Linked DNA regions of Homo sapiens. The protein of the gene in region 1 interacts with the protein of each later gene in a pairwise test. Each region holds a gene or a part of one and is shown in the gene's direction. Other genes may lie near its edges.

What was found.
Region 2: the proteins of CDKN2B (region 1) and PYCR3 interact in binary tests that used the Homo sapiens proteins (3 or more experiments, as listed by UniProt).

What each region holds. Positions count from the first base shown.
Region 1 is NC_000009.12:22,005,433-22,014,670, reverse strand, and holds the start of CDKN2B (cyclin-dependent kinase 4 inhibitor B), read left to right. Parts: upstream 1-5,365; 5' UTR 5,366-5,717; coding exon 5,718-5,873; coding exon of another isoform or gene 5,874-5,954; exon of another isoform or gene 5,955-5,996; intron 5,997-8,423; coding exon 8,424-8,684; 3' UTR 8,685-9,238. UniProt on the Homo sapiens protein: Interacts strongly with CDK4 and CDK6. Potent inhibitor. Potential effector of TGF-beta induced cell cycle arrest.
Region 2 is NC_000008.11:143,605,039-143,614,073, reverse strand, and holds the start of PYCR3 (pyrroline-5-carboxylate reductase 3), read left to right. Parts: upstream 1-4,498; 5' UTR 4,499-4,525; coding exon 4,526-4,616; intron 4,617-5,197; exon of another isoform or gene 5,198-5,310; intron 5,311-5,947; coding exon 5,948-6,012; intron 6,013-6,941; coding exon 6,942-7,121; intron 7,122-7,394; coding exon 7,395-7,607; intron 7,608-7,919; coding exon 7,920-8,012; intron 8,013-8,191; coding exon 8,192-8,374; 3' UTR 8,375-9,035. Other genes in the region: GFUS (GDP-L-fucose synthase), read left to right, coding at 257-323, 471-550, 779-878, 1,109-1,164.

The sequences.
Region 1 (9,238 bases):
TAACTAACCTGCACATTGTGCACATGTACCCTAAAACTTAAAGTATAATAATAATAATAATAAAAGAAAGATTCTAGGACTCAACTCATTATTTTGAAAATTTATAAATACATTTCAAAATCTAGTGGTTTATCCTGTCTTTCTTACATATACCTGAAAGCAATGAAGTAGATAATGAAGAGAACTTTCTATATAGAAATATTCCAGGCCAGGCACAGTGGCTTATGTCTGTAATCCCAACACTTTGGGAGGCTGAAGCAGGAGGAGCTTAGGAGGCTGAGCCCAGTAGTTAGAGACCAGCCTGGGCAAAAAAGCAAGACCCTCATCTCTACAAAAAATTTAAAAATTAGCCAGGTGATGTGTGCCTGTAGTCCTAGCTATTGGGGAAGCTGAGGTGGGAGGATCACTTGAGCCTGGGAGTTGCAGGTTGCAGTGAGCTATGATCACACCACTGCACTCCAGCCTGGGTGACAGTGCAAGACTCTGTCTCAAATAATAAATAAATAAATAAATAATTTAAAAAGACATTCCAGCTAGTAAATGAAGGAATAGTAAAATTAGAATATCACCATTTTGCCATCCCCAAGAAAATAATAATCTATGAAATAATTATCCATGGCTGCTAGAATCACAGAAAGAGACAACCATATTATGTGTCTCTTGGTGAAAGTACGTAATCCCACTTATTAAATACTTTTGCCCAAATATCAAACCTGAATCACATACAGACTCTAGGCCTAAATAATAAGTTATGAGAAATACAAATGACAAAGAAAAATGTTAAGTGTCATTATAAAGAAGCATTCAGCAAAATCCAAGCTTTAGAAAACTACAGATAAAGCCAATTTCTGCAATAGATAAATTGAAAGAAAAAAAAAGAAGGCAAAAGGGGGAAACTGTAGATTAAGAGGAAACAAGACGCCAGGTGCAGTGGTTCACACTTGCAATCCAGCACTTTGGGGGGCCGAGGTGAAAGAATTGTGTGAGCCCAGGAGTTCGGGACCAGCCTGGGCCAGATGGCAAGACTTCATCTCTTCAAAAAAGTAAAAATATTAGCCAGTCATGGTGGCCAACACCTGTAGTCCCATCTACTCTGGAGGATGAGGCAGGAGCATCCCTTAAGCCCAGGAATTCGAGGCAGCAGTGACCCTTGCTCACAGTATTGCACTCCAGCCTGGTCGACAAGGTGAATGAAACCTGTCCCTTATAAGAAAAAAAAGAGAGAGAGAGAGATACAAGAGACTGTAGCAATTTCAACCAATTTCAATATCCTAGCCTTATTTTAATCCTTATTCAAATGAATAAATTATTAATAACAGTTTAAAAAGAAATGAAAAGTAAAATGTGTAAAAATTAAGATGCTGTTGTTATGGGTTAAATTCTGTCACCTCTAAATTTTTATATTAAAGTCCTAAGCCCAATACCTCACAATTTGACCGTATTTGGAAATAGAGCCCTTAAAGAAGTGACTAAGTTAAAATAAGGCCATTGGGGTGGGCCCTAATCCAATCTGACTGGTGTCCTCAAAAGAGGAGGAAATTTGGACACACACAAGAGATCCAGGGGCACGTGTGCACAGAGGGATGACTATGTGAAGAGGCAGCAGTAGGATGGCCATGTGCAAGTCAAGAAGAGAAGCCTCAGGAGAAGTTAAAACTCTGAGAAAATAAATATTTGTTGTTTAAGCTACTCAGTCTGTGGTATTCTGTTATGGCAGCCCTAGCAAACTAATACGGATACTAAAATGATGAACAAGTCCACCATTTAATTAATCTTGAAAAATACATGGGAATATAGAAGTGGATATACTGTGGATCACGGAGCAATAAACCCAACTCATAAAATGGAGAAAATCAAACCTCTTGGTGGGAAGGTGTGTTCATAAAAAATTTGAAAAAGCCCCAAAAGTGATTATGAATTTCCTTCTCTTCTCACTTATAAACACTATCTTAGTCCTAATCATATGCAAAAGTGTGCATAAATGAGGGCAAGGTTAGGTCGCTGTTTCTCTTGGCCAGTCAACCAGTTCTATTCATACTTTTTTTTTTTCCAGTCAATGAAAGGGACACTTTATTGAGGCTCCAGGGCCATGGGGCCTGGGCAGGAGGCTGCCCTCCGAGGAAGGAAGAGCCTTATTTGACCTTCTTGGGGTGCAGGTTGTTGGTGTGGCCACACTTCTTCTTGCGGCAATTGACAGCATAGGGGTGCAGGAGAGCATAGCGCTTATGGCAGATCATCTTGTTTCAGCTGTATTTCTAGGTGAGCTGGAAGAGTGAAGGCTCAATAATGCCACCTCGCAGGTGCAGCACCAGGTGCGGGGTGGGCTGTTTCTGGACGTTGTAGTCTGAGAGAGTGCGGCCATCCTCCAGCTGTTTGCTGGCAAATATCAGACGCTGCTTGTCAGGGGGGATACCCTCCTTGTCTTGAATTTTCGCACTGACATTCTCAATGGTGTCACTGGGCTCGACCTCAAGGGTGATGGTCTTGCCCGTGAGGGTCTTCACAAAGATCTGCATCTCTGTGTCTGCAGCTCGGCTGCCTCGCTGAAGAAAAAGAGGATGGCAGATCTGTTCATACTTCTATATCAAGGTCATATACAGACAATTTCACCAACTAGAATATAAAAATATTATTACTAGTGATCTGAGTTATGTGCAACATTGGAATGGATGCCACTCATTCCCTTCTACTGACCTCCAAAATTCTATGCCAATTTACCATTAACTTTCTCTTTCTTTCTTCTCAATTATAAATTCTCCACCTTATTAAAAGACATGGCTCTGACAATTCCAAGTTTCAGCTGCCCACTATGTTCCCATCCACTTCATCTTTTAAATGTGTTTAAAGCATTAACAACAGATTGTGTTTCACCCTAGAGACAGCTGGGTTTCAAGGAGAGGTAAAATGTTTCATAATCTCACTCTATTGTCCAAGACAAATGTGCTATTGTATTACATGTGAAATGTCATCTTTGAAGTCTGGTAAGGGTGTGCTGTGAGGTGAGCCATCTGGAAAACACAGTGTAGACTGAAAAATAATTATAAGCCAGTTTATTACTTTTTTCCAGTTAAGCCTACCATGACAGCTGCTAAAAAAAACACTATGTAGTATAAAGGGTAAAAAGACTCTGAAGTCGCAAAAGTTATACCCACCTCCAACAATGATTAGCTAGTATACAAGTCACTCAAATTCTCTGATCCTTTTGGCTTGTCTGTAAAATTGAAATATGGACACATGCCACAGAGGAGTTTTATGAGTATTAAATGAAACAACAGCTGTAAAGCACTTCGTACAGAGTACACAATAAGTTTGATTTCTCTTCTCGTCTTCTAAATATAGACTATATAATATTCTTTATACAGAGAATATTAGATAAAATCCAATCATATTTGAAAACCAGGTTGAGCAGGTTGGTTTTTCAAAGAAATTCATTGAGCTTCCATAATGTCCTTTCTATTTGACGGGAGAAAAGGGGCTTTGGAAGATCAAGTGTGAAGCTTTAGAATTCTGTCTGGAGCTGGTTAGGACCACCCAGGCCTGAGTATAAGCAAAGCGCTGTCCGTGGTGCTAGTAAGCGCGAATGCCCCCGGCAACGTTTTCCCTACCCAAAGTTGTTTTTCATTCAGTCAACTTGCTTCGCGAAGCTCACACATCTGCCTCGTGCAAGATTCTCAGTCATTTTACTTAGTCATTGGTTCTTTCCCTATCACCATTCTTTATGTCCCCCTCAAAGAAAAACATTATCTTCCATTTCCTTATCAACTCCAAACAGCTTTCATTTTTCTGACATATTTACTACCTAAGAAAATGGCTCAAGAATTGGGTCAGACTATCTTGTCCTAACTTTTCTGATAAGTTTCAGAGAAACTCAAAGGTCAAAACAAGAGCATAAGAGTAAAAGGTAGAGAAATTAAGAAACTGAAGACTAGGAAATGGGGGTTGGATGGGAAAGAAAAAGAAATTGTTATTAATGCTACCCGGTTCCCTTCCCTGTCCAGGTGGATTTCAGCTCTGTTGAGGCTCTGTCAGTAGATTTTCAGCCCTAACCAGCACTTCCATGGTGGTGGCACTTCCACTGCCTTTAAAAGAAAGAGCTTTTTTTAATTCTACAGGGATTTGGGGGATGAGGAGTCAGAGCTAAGGTATCCTAAAAAAAACATGTGAAGACTCTCATTTTGCAATACACAAGCAATTGCCCTCCTGTTAAGACTTTGTCTTCCTCAGCACTCCGAACCAAAATGATTCTGTAAACAAAAATTGTTCACTTTTAGGAGAGGTCCACTTATGCAGTTCCTCACCAAAGTTTTTAGGCAACAAATCCATAACTTGCGGTTCTCTTCCTATCCAATGTAGCATCCGCTGAAATGTTTTAAATATTTTAAGTAATAAATGTTGATTCAAACTCACCTAGGAAGATTAGGAAGGGGAAAAAAAGCACTTGGCATTTAAATCTTCAGAAGAGAATTTAATGACAGGTTCAGCCTGTTTAATGACAAGCCCAGCACCACACCCCTCTCTTATGATGTTTCATTATTACTGCATAAATTTCCTTTATTACTCATGATAAATAAAAATAAGATACCTGACAAAGTGGGTTTAAATAGGTAAGAGTGCAAACAAAGATTTACTGTACAAATATGATGAAACTGGGATCTCAGATTCTTAAAGTATAATTTTTTTTTGTCTTATGTGTGCCAGGTTGCCACTCTCAATCTCGAACTAGTTTTTTTCTCTTTTAAGGGTTGTATCCATAATGCAAAAATGGAAAGAATTAAAAAGCACACGCAAAACATGATTCTCGGGATTTTTCTCTATTTTTATGGTTGACTAATTCAAACAGAAAGACACATCCAAGAGAAAATTGCTAAGTTTGATACAAGTTATGAAACTTGTGAAGCCCAAGTACTGCCTGGGGATGAATTTAACTTGTATGACAGGTGCAGAGCTGTCGCTTTCAGACATCTTAAGAAACACGGAGTTATTTTGAATGACTTTCTCTCGGTCACAAGGGAGCCACCAACGTCTCCACAGTGAAACCAACTGGCTGGCTGAAGGAACAGAAATCCTCTGCTCCGCCTACTGGGGATTAGGAGCTGAGGGCAGTGGTGAACATTCCCAAAATATTAGCCTTGGCTTTACTGGACATCCAGCGAGCAGTGCAGCCAGCATTCCTGGCGGCTCCCTGGCCCAGTCTCTGGCGCATGCGTCCTAGCATCTTTGGGCAGGCTTCCCCGCCCTCGTGACGCGTCGGCCCGGGCCTGGCCTCCCGGCGATCACAGCGGACAGGGGGCGGAGCCTAAGGGGGTGGGGAGACGCCGGCCCCTTGGCCCAGCTGAAAACGGAATTCTTTGCCGGCTGGCTCCCCACTCTGCCAGAGCGAGGCGGGGCAGTGAGGACTCCGCGACGCGTCCGCACCCTGCGGCCAGAGCGGCTTTGAGCTCGGCTGCGTCCGCGCTAGGCGCTTTTTCCCAGAAGCAATCCAGGCGCGCCCGCTGGTTCTTGAGCGCCAGGAAAAGCCCGGAGCTAACGACCGGCCGCTCGGCCACTGCACGGGGCCCCAAGCCGCAGAAGGACGACGGGAGGGTAATGAAGCTGAGCCCAGGTCTCCTAGGAAGGAGAGAGTGCGCCGGAGCAGCGTGGGAAAGAAGGGAAGAGTGTCGTTAAGTTTACGGCCAACGGTGGATTATCCGGGCCGCTGCGCGTCTGGGGGCTGCGGAATGCGCGAGGAGAACAAGGGCATGCCCAGTGGGGGCGGCAGCGATGAGGGTCTGGCCAGCGCCGCGGCGCGGGGACTAGTGGAGAAGGTGCGACAGCTCCTGGAAGCCGGCGCGGATCCCAACGGAGTCAACCGTTTCGGGAGGCGCGCGATCCAGGTAGCTGGGGCCCCAGGGCCTCGCCGGCAGGGGGCGCGCGAACGCGGGGCGCGGCCTCGGCGGATCGGGGCTGGAACCTAGATCGCCGATGTAGATTTGTACAGGAGTCTCCGTTGGCCGGAGGTGTGCATTCCACGCGTAAAACAGGCTTTTACCCAGCAAAAATCCTAAAGAGAGACATTGAAAAACCCACTGTTTAAGCTTTTTTTAGTGGTTTTTGTTCTGCCATCTCATGATCAGAGATGCAAGGAATAGACTGAATTGGGGAGAAAAGGAGAAAAGGAAAGCTTATTTAGGGAAGAAGATTATCTTGTCTGTCTGCTTTCAACGATAAAGATAAGTAAAGTATAAGTTACGCATTCTAGATTGGATTTAAGGAATTCTACAAAATCATAGTACATGGAAAAAATCAATGTAAACTTCTAAGCTACTATATGAAATCTGTTGTATTGTTTTCTCATAGAGGTTAATTGAGAATGAGACGGGATTCCTCAACCACAGTACTTAGTTCCTTTTATGTTAGCAGTGTCTTATGAGTGATGCATAAGAGAAAAAATATATAGTTCTATAGGTTTCTCATTCTTTAATTATCATACTCAGTGCCCAGATTACAAAAATATTCCTGCAGCAACTGTTAGGTCCTTTTTGAATGGCAAAGGATCTTCATAAATAATGCATCTTTATCTTCATTGTTAAAATACACTTATTCAATGTTTAAGTACGAATCCTGCTTTAATTAGTACTGATATTTTTTATTTCTTTTACAATCTCGGACAACTCTTTTGTACTTTACCGTTGGCTAGTGGTCATATTCAGTACTCACCTCACTATCACCCTCTAAAACTAAGCTAATATTAAGGGATCTTGTTAATAGTATAGATTTTAAAGAAGTGTTCATTTCTTTTGAATTCTTAGAATAATGGTATAACAAATGAGGGATTTTTAAAGGAGCAAAAATATTGTAAAGTGCATCTTAAAAACTTAAAATTTTATTAATAATTATAAAAACAAGTTATATATGTAATTCACCATTTTCTGAAATACTAACAGCAGCTATTTTCCCCTTTTTTTCTATGTAAAATATCCTTACATCACTAGTAGATATAACTTATCACGGTTTTTAAGAGATGAAATGAACATTTCTAATATTAATGAAACAAGCCAACAAAACATGAGAAGTATACTGCCTTTCAATTAAATGGTATATTTTAAAGTGCATAAACCCATAACAAATAACTCGATTTTAGACATTTAGTTACCAAAAATTGTCTTATAATTGACTTTAAATATGACAGCAAATGTTTTCATAATGTTCATGTACACAAATGGCTGCTACAGGATTACTCCTGCAAAACATCATTTTTTCTAAGTTATGCATCATCCTGATTGACTGCTAACATCCAAGCTCTATTTATTTATTTATTTATTTTATTTTTTTTGAGATGAGGCCTCACTCTGTCGGACAGGCTGGAGTGCAGTGGCACAATCTCAGCTCACTGCAACCTCTTCCAGGATGCAAGCGATTCTCCTGCCTCAGCCTCCTGAGTTGCTGGGACTACAGGCACGCCCCACCATGCCCAGCTAATTTTTTATTTTTTGTAGTAGAGACGGGATTTCACCATGTTGGCCAGGCTGGTCTCGAACTCCTGACCTCAGGTGATCTGCCTGCTATGGCCTCCCAAAGTGCTGGGATTACAGGCATAAGCCACTGGGCCTGGCCCAAGCTCTTTTTATATAGCAAAATATTTACTGTTTAACATTTTTAAATCTTAGCTATTATAAAATCCTGTAGTATACAAATATAGTTAGTTTTATATTACATTAAAAATATTATAGTCTAAATTTAAAATGATGAACTGTTAAGGAAAAATCATTTATTATAATTTTATAAGATTTTGCATGATTTAATTTACTTTTCCCTTCTAATCTCCAACTTTGGCTCAAATTATCACACTACAAGCCAGTTATGAGCTCAGACACATGACAAACAAAAGCCTTCCGCACGGGATTTGCTATGAGAACTAAATAAATTAAAAAAAAAAGAAAGAAAAAAACTTAGTTGTTTATTTTCTCCCCTAAACCATTACTCCCAACTTCTAACAAACAGTAGTTGACTACCTAATAAATATTTGTAGACCTGGATTATGGAGGAGGGGTCAGCAAGGCAAATAATTTAAAACTTTAAAAGCCGAATAAATTTAACTCTGCCCCTAAATCATTTAACAAAATAGATTCCCATGTTCCAATGGAAATCAAGATTTGTTTTTCCATAATGATGATCATCACTTTACCATCAACTTTCTTGTCTCTGCACGTTTAGAGAATAAAATGGCATTTAATTTGTACTGAGTATAACCTGAAGGTGGGGTGGGAAAGTGGATTGCATCAGCAAATGAAGAAACACCAGACATCAGAGACCTGAACACCTCTGCACTGGGTGAAAACTTTGCAATTAGGTGTTTCTTTAAATGGCTCCACCTGCCTTGCCCCGGCCGGCATCTCCCATACCTGCCCCCACCCTGGCTCTGACCACTCTGCTCTCTCTGGCAGGTCATGATGATGGGCAGCGCCCGCGTGGCGGAGCTGCTGCTGCTCCACGGCGCGGAGCCCAACTGCGCAGACCCTGCCACTCTCACCCGACCGGTGCATGATGCTGCCCGGGAGGGCTTCCTGGACACGCTGGTGGTGCTGCACCGGGCCGGGGCGCGGCTGGACGTGCGCGATGCCTGGGGTCGTCTGCCCGTGGACTTGGCCGAGGAGCGGGGCCACCGCGACGTTGCAGGGTACCTGCGCACAGCCACGGGGGACTGACGCCAGGTTCCCCAGCCGCCCACAACGACTTTATTTTCTTACCCAATTTCCCACCCCCACCCACCTAATTCGATGAAGGCTGCCAACGGGGAGCGGCGGAAAGCCTGTAAGCCTGCAAGCCTGTCTGAGACTCACAGGAAGGAGGAGCCGACCGGGAATAACCTTCCATACATTTTTTTCTTTGTCTTATCTGGCCCTCGACACTCACCATGAAGCGAAACACAGAGAAGCGGATTTCCAGGGATATTTAGGAGTGTGTGACATTCCAGGGGTCGTTTGCTTTTCAGGGTTTTCTGAGGGAAAGTGCATATGAAATCCTTGACTGGACCTGGTGGCTACGAATCTTCCGATGGATGAATCTCCCACTCCAGCGCTGAGTGGGAGAAGGCAGTGATTAGCACTTGGGTGACGGCAGTCGATGCGTTCACTCCAATGTCTGCTGAGGAGTTATGGTGAACCCACAACTTAGGCCCTAGCGGCAGAAAGGAAAACCTGAAGACTGAGGACAAAGTGGAGGAGGGCCGAGGTGGGCTTCAGTAAGTCCCCGGCGGCGC
Region 2 (9,035 bases), on another chromosome or scaffold:
GAGGGAGGCTCCTACCAGCAGAGAATCTGGGCTGAGCTCCAAGAGGAGCCATCTCTGGTCCTCGTGGAGGCCCCATAGGCTCCTGTCTCCAGGAGTCACTGGCGTAGCTCTGAGCTCCAAGGGAGAAAGGAGGGACCCCTGTTCCCCAGGCTGAGCCCCCACTGAACAAGGACAGCAGTATGGACTCCCCAGCAGGGGCGTTTGGGAGAGGGTTGGCTATACCCATGGTCTCTGACCCTGCCTGTCTGACCTCTAGGACCTGGCCCAGCTCTTTATCTGGGTCCTGCGGGAGTACAATGAAGTGGAGCCCATCATCCTCTCCGGTGGGTACCTCAGCCCTCAGCCCCCTTCCTCCATGGTAGGACAGGATCCAAGGTTGTCCTGGGAGGCTGGCTGAGGGGTGGGAGCAGGAATATTCATGGGCCGTCGGGTGGCACCAAGGGGAGGCCTGACCCGGTGGCTCCCCACAGTGGGCGAGGAAGATGAGGTCTCCATCAAGGAGGCAGCCGAGGCGGTGGTGGAGGCCATGGACTTCCATGGGGAAGTCACCGTATCCTCTGGCTCCAGTGCTGGGGGTTGGGCGGGGGCCCCTTGGGCGGGCTCAGTGGCCACCCGGTGTAGGGCCAGCGTGGGTGGGACACTGCGGAGGGAGGATGCTCACCCTGGCAGGCGGAGGAGCTCTGCTGTGGCTCCCCTGGGAATGGCAGAGGTTCAAGGGCAAGCTGCGGGGGCTGGGGTGGAGGTGCTCTTCTCGCTGTGGCCTTGACAAAGCCTCCAGTTTGATACAACCAAGTCGGATGGGCAGTTTAAGAAGACAGCCAGTAACAGCAAGCTGAGGACCTACCTGCCCGACTTCCGGTTCACACCCTTCAAGCAGGGTGAGCCCTGACCCCACAGCCCTCCACTTGGTGGAGGCCTGCCCCAGCCCCTCCCTCATGCTCGCTACCAGGGCAGAGGTGAGGTGCCCCCTCAGAGCCTGTACTGCCCTGGAGGTGGGACACCAAAGCTCTGAGGGGTGACTTCCCTGTCCCTGGGCCTCCTCCCCCCACTTCCTCCCATGCGGCCCCGACCCTCCCTGTCCATGGCCCTCACCTGCCTGCCTCTGCAGCGGTGAAGGAGACCTGTGCTTGGTTCACTGACAACTACGAGCAGGCCCGGAAGTGAAGCTGGAAGACAGGATCAGGTGCCAGCGGACCATCGGCTGGCAGAGCCCAGCGGCCACCACCCGTCAACCCTGCCAGGAGCTGAGGGCACCACCCAGCAACCTGGGCCTGCATTCCATCCGCTCTGCAGCCCCAAGCATCTTTCCAGTGGGGCCCCCATTCACGTTGGTCCTCAGGGAAACCAGGGTCCCGGGCAGGCCCGGCGCTTTGCTCCCCACACCAGCCCCCTGCGCGTGTCCACTCTGATCCTGCATCCCACTCCCTGGGAGCCAATAAAGTGCATTTTCACAGGCCTGGCCTTGGCAGCTCTGTGCTGAGCCGTCCCCCACACCCAGGGACTGCCCCCTAGCCTGGCCAGTCCCAGGACCCACTATCCCCCTGGCTTACTGTTCAGCCCCCAAGAGCTGGTGACTCCCTGGGGTGGAAAGGCCGCAGAGGCTGGAGATGGGAAGGCACACGTGGGCAGGCAGCAGGCAGGCAGCAGTGAGACTGGTGTGGACTGTCAGCTGGACAAGGATGTGCAGGGCAGGGCCAGTCCCAGCCCCTCCACATGTGGCCACCTGCAGGCCTGAGTAACTTGAGCTCACCCGGACCTCCCTGCCTCAGCCTGAGGGCTCTGGGGAAGCTGGTCTAGTGGGCCAGAAACGTCTAGTGAGCCAGCCGAGCTGAGCCCATGGATGGATATGAGGGGAGGCTGATGATTGGGTGGCTCGGGCTTCCCCTGGCCTGGCCCCTCCTCTCTGTGGCTCTCAGGCTTGGGCGTGGGTCCCCCACCTGGCCTTATCCCATGGAGAGGGACAGGTGCCTGCTGGACAGGTCAGCTCCAGCCACCAGAGGTGGGGTGTCATTGCTCGCCGCCCCCGTCCATTCTCAGAGGGGAGACAGCAAAGTCCAGAATGGTTCCCGGGCCAGTGCCTCAGCCAGGCAGGGTGGCGCTGGGGTATGGACCAGGAGCACTGGGCTCCAGGCCCCGGCTTGCCCGTCGCCCCCTTTCTCAGTGCCTCTCACAGAGGGAGCCCCTATGCCAGAACCCTCTGGTCCACTGCATCCAGGACCCAGATGCCCTCCCTGGCTCCTGGCCCAACTCTGGGCCCACGTCCTCAGGGTCCCTCTCCTGGGCGCCCTGTGCCGTCTTCACGCACATGATGCCTTTTGGCTGCAGGTAGGACCTGCTGCTTCACTTCTTCGTTCATTCCGGCAGCGGTGATGTGTCCTCCCTGTCCCGGCACTGAGTCCAGACCGGTGTGTCCTGCACCCAGCCAACCGCTCACCTCATCTCTCACTGTCCCTTTGTGTCCAGCAAGCCGAGGTGTCCTCCAGGCCTCCCCTGAGACTGGCCCCCTCTTGGGTCAAGGCCTCCCTACCTTTTAGGCCTCAGCTGAGGTGGCCCAGCCTCCAAAACACCTTCCCTGATGGCACCTTCACAGCGCCTCTCGGAGCATCCACCCTGCCCTGCTGGGATTGTTTGTCTGGAAACCTCTGGGAGCCCCGCCTCAACCCCTAACCCTCCCGCTGACACCCCAGGACCTCGAGCTCCAGGAGACGGGTTGGCCTCGTTCACAGTGTATCCCCTGGCCCCAGCCCTTTGTGGATAAAGGCTCTGCCCATGTGGGGGTTCAGGAAAGGCCTCCTGGAGAGGGTGGCGCCTATGTGGCTGCTTGGATCCACCAGGTGAACAGTGGGAAGAAGCCCAGCCAAGAGCAGAGAGGTGCCCTGGACACAAGCCTTGGCTGGCTGGGTGTCCACGTCAGCTGAGGGCTCCCAGCTGATGCTCAGAAGCCCAGCCCGGCATGGGACGGAGAAGCTGAACGGGGCTGGGCCCCTGGGCCTCCTTTTACCCACTGTGGCCCTGGGCACTCAGCCAGCAATCCTCCTTCACCTCGCCTCAGTCCACTTGTTTATGATGAGCTTTGTCCTTATGTATGATGGCATGGCACTGGATGCCTCTGGCCCCTCTCACCTCCCCACAGCCTTGGTCCTGAGCCATCACTGGCCCAGGGGGCCTGGGAGAAAATCCAGGGAGTCTGTGGGAAGGGGCTGGGAGGATCCGAGGTGGCAGGAGATACAGCTGCTGACGCTGTGTGCTGGTGCAAAGTGTCCACCACCCACGTTTCTCGGCTGCAGTGGCCGAAGCAGCCTCCTGGTGGCTTTCTGTCCCTTTCCACCTCATTTGCTTCAGAGCCTTGACACACTGGCTGTCCTGCGTGTGTGCTGACTGTAGTCTGTCTACACTGCCACCAAGCAGGGCTGCAGGGTGGGGTCCAGCCTGTCCCATCTGCTGCCGTGGGGTGATCTTGCCCAGGCCCAGAGCAGGGCCCAGAGGCTGCAGCTGCACAGTGAATGTTGAATCAATGAGAGGATTTCATTACTGAAGAGCTTAGAAAATGTCAAAGGCTTGGGCCGGCACGGTGGCTCACGCCTGTAATCCCAGCACTTTGGGAGGCCGAGGCAGGTGGATCACGAGGTCAGGAGATTGAGACCATCCTGGCTAACAAGGTGAAACCCCATCTCTACTAAAAATACAAAAAAATAAGCCGGGCGTGGTGGCGGTCGCCTATAGTCCCAGCTACTTGGGAGGCTGAGGCAGGAGAATGGCGTGAACCCGGGAGACGGAGCTTGCAGCGAGCCCAGATGGCGCCACTGCACTCCAGCCTGGGCGACAGAGCGAGACTCCGTCTCAAAAAAAAGAAAAAAGAAAATGTCAAAGGCTTCAAAAGAAAATAACATATGTAACATGCAGCTTTAGATTGGATGATGAAAAAACCGCACTCAGATCTTCAAGCCTTGTTTTCCTTGTGTCATTAAAAGTGACGAGTACCCCCTCCCCGACTGTCCCCTCCGTCGGTCTCAGGCCCCTGGCCCTGGCCTGCTCTCCGTGACCTGGGTCTCCGCCCCTAGTGCTTCCCCGCAGCTCCACCGTCTGTGGTCGGCGGGGCCTCAGTGACCGCACGCTCTGGACCAGCCCCGCAACCCGCTTCGCTACCCCTCCCCTCCGGAAAACCAACATGTGCTCCTCGCACGCGCGACCGGGACCCCTCCCCGCTCCTCCGGCCTCTCCGAGCGCGAGTACCCCGCCGGCCCCGCCCCTTACGGCCCCGCCCCCAGTTTCTCTCAGCCAATGGGCAGTGAGGGGCGGCATAGCCCTTTCGGGCCAATAAGCAGCGAGAGGCGGGGTTCCCGCGCCTTGCGAACTTGTAGAGTGCGGACAAAAAGCCGGCCGGAGTGTGCCGTCCCAGTAACCAATCGGCGAGGGTGGGGACGGGGAGGCGAGTCCTATTGGAGGGCGGGGGTGGGGCCTAGATCTGTGGGCGGGGCGCGGCCTGTGGATGGGCGGTGAGCGCAGCGGCGTCCGAGGCAACAAGATGGCAGCTGCGGAGCCGTCTCCGCGGCGCGTGGGCTTCGTGGGCGCGGGCCGCATGGCGGGGGCCATCGCGCAGGGCCTCATCAGAGCAGGTGGGGCGGCGCGGGGCTAGGCCTGCGGTCTGGAGTGGGAGCAGCCCCGTGGGAGGTGTCCTGCCGCGAGAGTGGGGCCGGGGGCGCGGGCCCAGCCAACCGGGTCTCCGCTCCGCTGGGCGCAGCCGGGGCCACGCCTGTTTGCTCTTACTTTTTTGACGTGGCTGCGGGAAGATTTGAGTCACACGTGGCTAGGTGCCGCTTCCGTGGCCGGCTTCCTGGCCGCGTGGCCTTGGCCAGGCTCACCTCTTCCAGCCTCTGATTTTCTCTTTGCGCGCCAGCCCCTCTCATGGGGAGCAGCAGGGCTTCTCCCCCAGACACCTTGGCTCTAGGGACACCTGGGCCAGACTATCCATCCTGTGCCAGCAGCACCCCCACGTTGTGACAGCCAAAAATGCCTCCAGACACTGCCGAATGTCCCCTGGGTGGGGGGAGGAGACAGGCAAAATCATCCCCTGTTGAGAAACACTGCTTTATACCCGGAATATTTATGCTGACCATATACTCCTCCAGGCATTTAGAAGCCTCTCTGCAGATTGTGGATAGGGAGAGCTGGGTGACTTTTGACTCTCTGCCTTCAGCCATACTTCAGGGTCCAGAAGAGTCAAGATCAATCGGGAAATAGCTTACTATGAGTCTCAGGAGTCTTCCCTGTGAAACCTGGCAGTACCGCATGCCTCCCAGAGCTGTACAGGTTAAATGAGACATAAATGTCTAGTGTTGAGCTTAGTACTGGTGTGTTTGGCTGCCACTGTCATGATTAATTGCTGTGTTCAGGTTGTGGTGTACACTTGTGCCTTCCTGTTCGACCTTACCAAAATCTAACCCAATCTTTCCACCCCGTACCCGACAAAAGCAGATAATTTCTACCAAGTAGGCATTTAGCCTTTTCTTAGACATTCCAGCATAGACTCTCCCTCTCGAAGAACCTGGGCCCCGATTGGGCCTTCTGTGGCCAATCAACTGCCTTTGTACCCACCACATTCCCCCAAGGCCTGGTGTTCCTCCAGAGGTACTGCCTCTTCTGCTCCAGGCAGCCTTCCCTTCCCTGGAGGCAGAGGCCCCAGGGATCTGTGTCCTCACCAATGAGGTAAGCTCCTGGCCTCCATACCCAGCAGCAGTCAGGGGCGTTGACCGCCAAGTAGAATCAGTGGATCTGATTGCCTGGGCCCAGTGAATGGTGCATCCCGCTTTGGGTTCCTGGGGCCAGGAGGGGGCCCAGGATGGGCCAGGCGTGGCTGAGCCTGAGAGGCCAAGTGAGCTCCCTCTCCTCTCCGTGCCATCCTATCCCACCCCTTCACCAACCCCTCTTCCTTTTCCTTTCTTTCCAGGAAAAGTGGAAGCTCAGCACATACTGGCCAGTGCACCAACAGACAGGAACCTATGTCACTTTCAAGTGAGCATAGAGCCCAGGTTCTTCATACCCTCAGGAGCCCAGGATAGCTCTTGGCTCCTGTCCCACTAAGACACTTATCAGAGCCAGGGATGGGTGGTTTATTTAGCTGAAGTTTGCAGACTGGCTGGTCTGGGCTGGGAAAAGGGAGATTAGAGGCCAGGAGGAAAGTAAGGTTGTGGAGGGCCAAAGCAAAGTGTTTGTGTGTGTGTGTGTATGCATGTGTGAGTGCATGTCCGTGAGTGTGTGTATATGCACGTGTGTATATGTGAGGCTATGCGTGTGCATGTGTGTATGTATGTGCTCATGTGCGTTTGCACGTGCGCTTGTGTGTGCGTGTGCACGTGTGGTGAGTGCATGTATGTCAGTGCATGTGTGTGCGTGTGTGTATGAGTGCATGCTCATGAGTGCATGTGCACCTGTGTGGTCGTGAGTGCACGTATGTGCTTGTGCATGTGTGCCTGTGCAGATGTGTATATGAGTGCGTGTGTGCGTGTATGAGTGCGTGCGTGTACACATGAGTGCATGCTCGAGTGGGTGTGTGTGCATGTGTTTGTGCTCATGAGTGCATTCATGTGTACATGTGTATGTATGCTCGTGAGTGCATGTGTCTGCGTGTGTGTATATGAATGCATGCTCGTGAGTGCGTGCATGTGCATGGGTGTGTTTGCATGCTGGGTGGTGGTCACAGACATTCACTGGGGATGGAGGGCTCAGGGCTTGGGGAGGCGCTGACATCAGGATGGCCTGTGAGGAGTAGGGCTAGTCTGGGGGAGTCTTGGGCACTGGAGAAGTCGGGGTGGTCTAGACACTTGCAATGGGAGAGGCCCTGGGACCATGGGAACGTGTGGCATCCAGCAGGAAGGGCTGTGATGGAGAGGGTGCGCCGCTTACATGGCCCCTGAGGCTTGGTCCTGGTGTCCCTGGCGCAGGCTCTGGGTTGCCGGACCACGCACTCCAACCAGGAGGTGCTGCAGAGCTGCCTGCTCGTCATCTTTGCCACCAAGCCTCATGTGCTGCCAGCTGTCCTGGCAGAGGTGGCTCCTGTGGTCACCACTGAACACATCTTGGTGTCCGTGGCTGCTGGGGTGTCTCTGAGCACCCTGGAGGAGGTGAGTGTCCCTTGGGCTAAGGCCTTGGTCCCAGTATAGGCTCTGCTGGCCAGGCTTGGGCGGCAGGCAGCCCCCCAGAGAGCCTGAGAGGTGGCCGTGTGGCCCACCTGGATCAAGTGGCTGGATTTAGGGTTCCCTCCTGGTGCTGTACCTGGGAGGCAGACGCTGGAGCCCACCGCGAGCTGACGTGGACCTTTCCTGAGGCCCCTGCTGGGGCCTGCCCAGCAGGGCCCAGTCCTACAGACTCCCTGATTCTGACCTCTCTCTGGCCAGCTGCTGCCCCCAAACACACGGGTGCTGCGGGTCTTGCCCAACCTGCCCTGTGTGGTCCAGGAAGGGGCCATAGTGATGGCGCGGGGCCGCCACGTGGGGAGCAGCGAGACCAAGCTCCTGCAGCATCTGCTGGAGGCCTGTGGGCGGTGTGAGGAGGTGCCTGAAGCCTACGTCGACATCCACACTGGCCTCAGTGGCAGTGGCGTGGCCTTCGTGAGTATTGCCTCGTCCATCCCCGGCCCCACCCTCGGCAAAGAGGGGGCCCACCCCAGTCCCTCTGACAGCCTCTGCCCTCAGAGTCCAACCTTGAGGCCTGCGTGGTTGCTCCCCAGGCCCACTGGGAGCTCTGCTTGTCCCCGGGACTTCACTGCCTTGGGGATCTTTGAGGCCAGCCCCTTTGCAGACCGTTGGGCTCAGGCCTTGGTTCTGGCCACCCACGGCTACTGCTCTGGGCATTGTTCCTGAAGGTCCTGAGCCCCCAGGCTTTGACACCTATCCCCCCCAACCACCATGCCGCGGCTACAGGTGTGTGCATTCTCCGAGGCCCTGGCTGAAGGAGCCGTCAAGATGGGCATGCCCAGCAGCCTGGCCCACCGCATCGCTGCCCAGACCCTGCTGGTGAGTGAGGGTGGCCCCTGGGGAACATCGGGAAGGCCCAGGCCTGTACCTCTTCCAGTGCGCAGGGAAACAGCAGGCTCGAGAAGCTGGGGCCAAGGTTGGGGGATGCAACGAGGGCAGGCCGCACAGTGGGGACCGCACCACCTCCCCCCGTCACCAGGCCCTAACGCTCTCCTCAGGGGACGGCCAAGATGCTGCTGCACGAGGGCCAACACCCAGCCCAGCTGCGCTCAGACGTGTGCACCCCGGGTGGCACCACCATCTATGGACTCCACGCCCTGGAGCAGGGCGGGCTGCGAGCAGCCACCATGAGCGCCGTGGAGGCTGCCACCTGCCGGGCCAAGGAGCTCAGCAGAAAGTAGGCTGGGCTCTGGCCATCCTTTCCTGCCTCTGTGCCCCTGCCTCTCCCTGTGTCCCTTCCCCTGAGGACTGCGGCTCCCTCCCTCCTGCATGAGGGTCTCCTACTGCTCCTTCTCCCCTTGCACAGGGAAATGCAGGGGGCAGGACTTGGGAGGTTCCAGCAGGCGGGGGAGCCCCGACCAGTGGGGACACTCCTCCCTCCCCAGTGAGCAGAAGGCACCGTGGTGGTGGCTCTGCCCCTTGCTGCAGTGAGCCCACCTTGCTGCAACATTGGTTCTGAGGGGCCCAAGAGATGGCGTCTTGGTCATTTGCCCGCATGGTTGGGCAGTTGGTTGAGGCCATGAACAGAACTTACGGTAACAGGCACGGCTGGCCCAATGCCTGGTCTGGAGCTGGAGCTTGCCTTTGGCTTTCCAGGTGGCTCCGTGCAGCTACAGCCAGGCCGGCTGCCTCATCTCAGCTCTAGGGGGCACGAGCCATATGGGGTCTGCACAAGAGACCCTCTCCCCTGCAGTAAAGCCAGGGGCCCTGGCCTGATGGGGCCCCCATGGGGAGCTGGAGCCTGCCCTGCAGCCTGGAGAAGAGGGTGGCTGTGGTGGGCGTGCTCATCCCCTGCTAAGGAGCAGGAGCTGCTGGGCCAGGTCTGCGGCAGTGCTGGGGTGG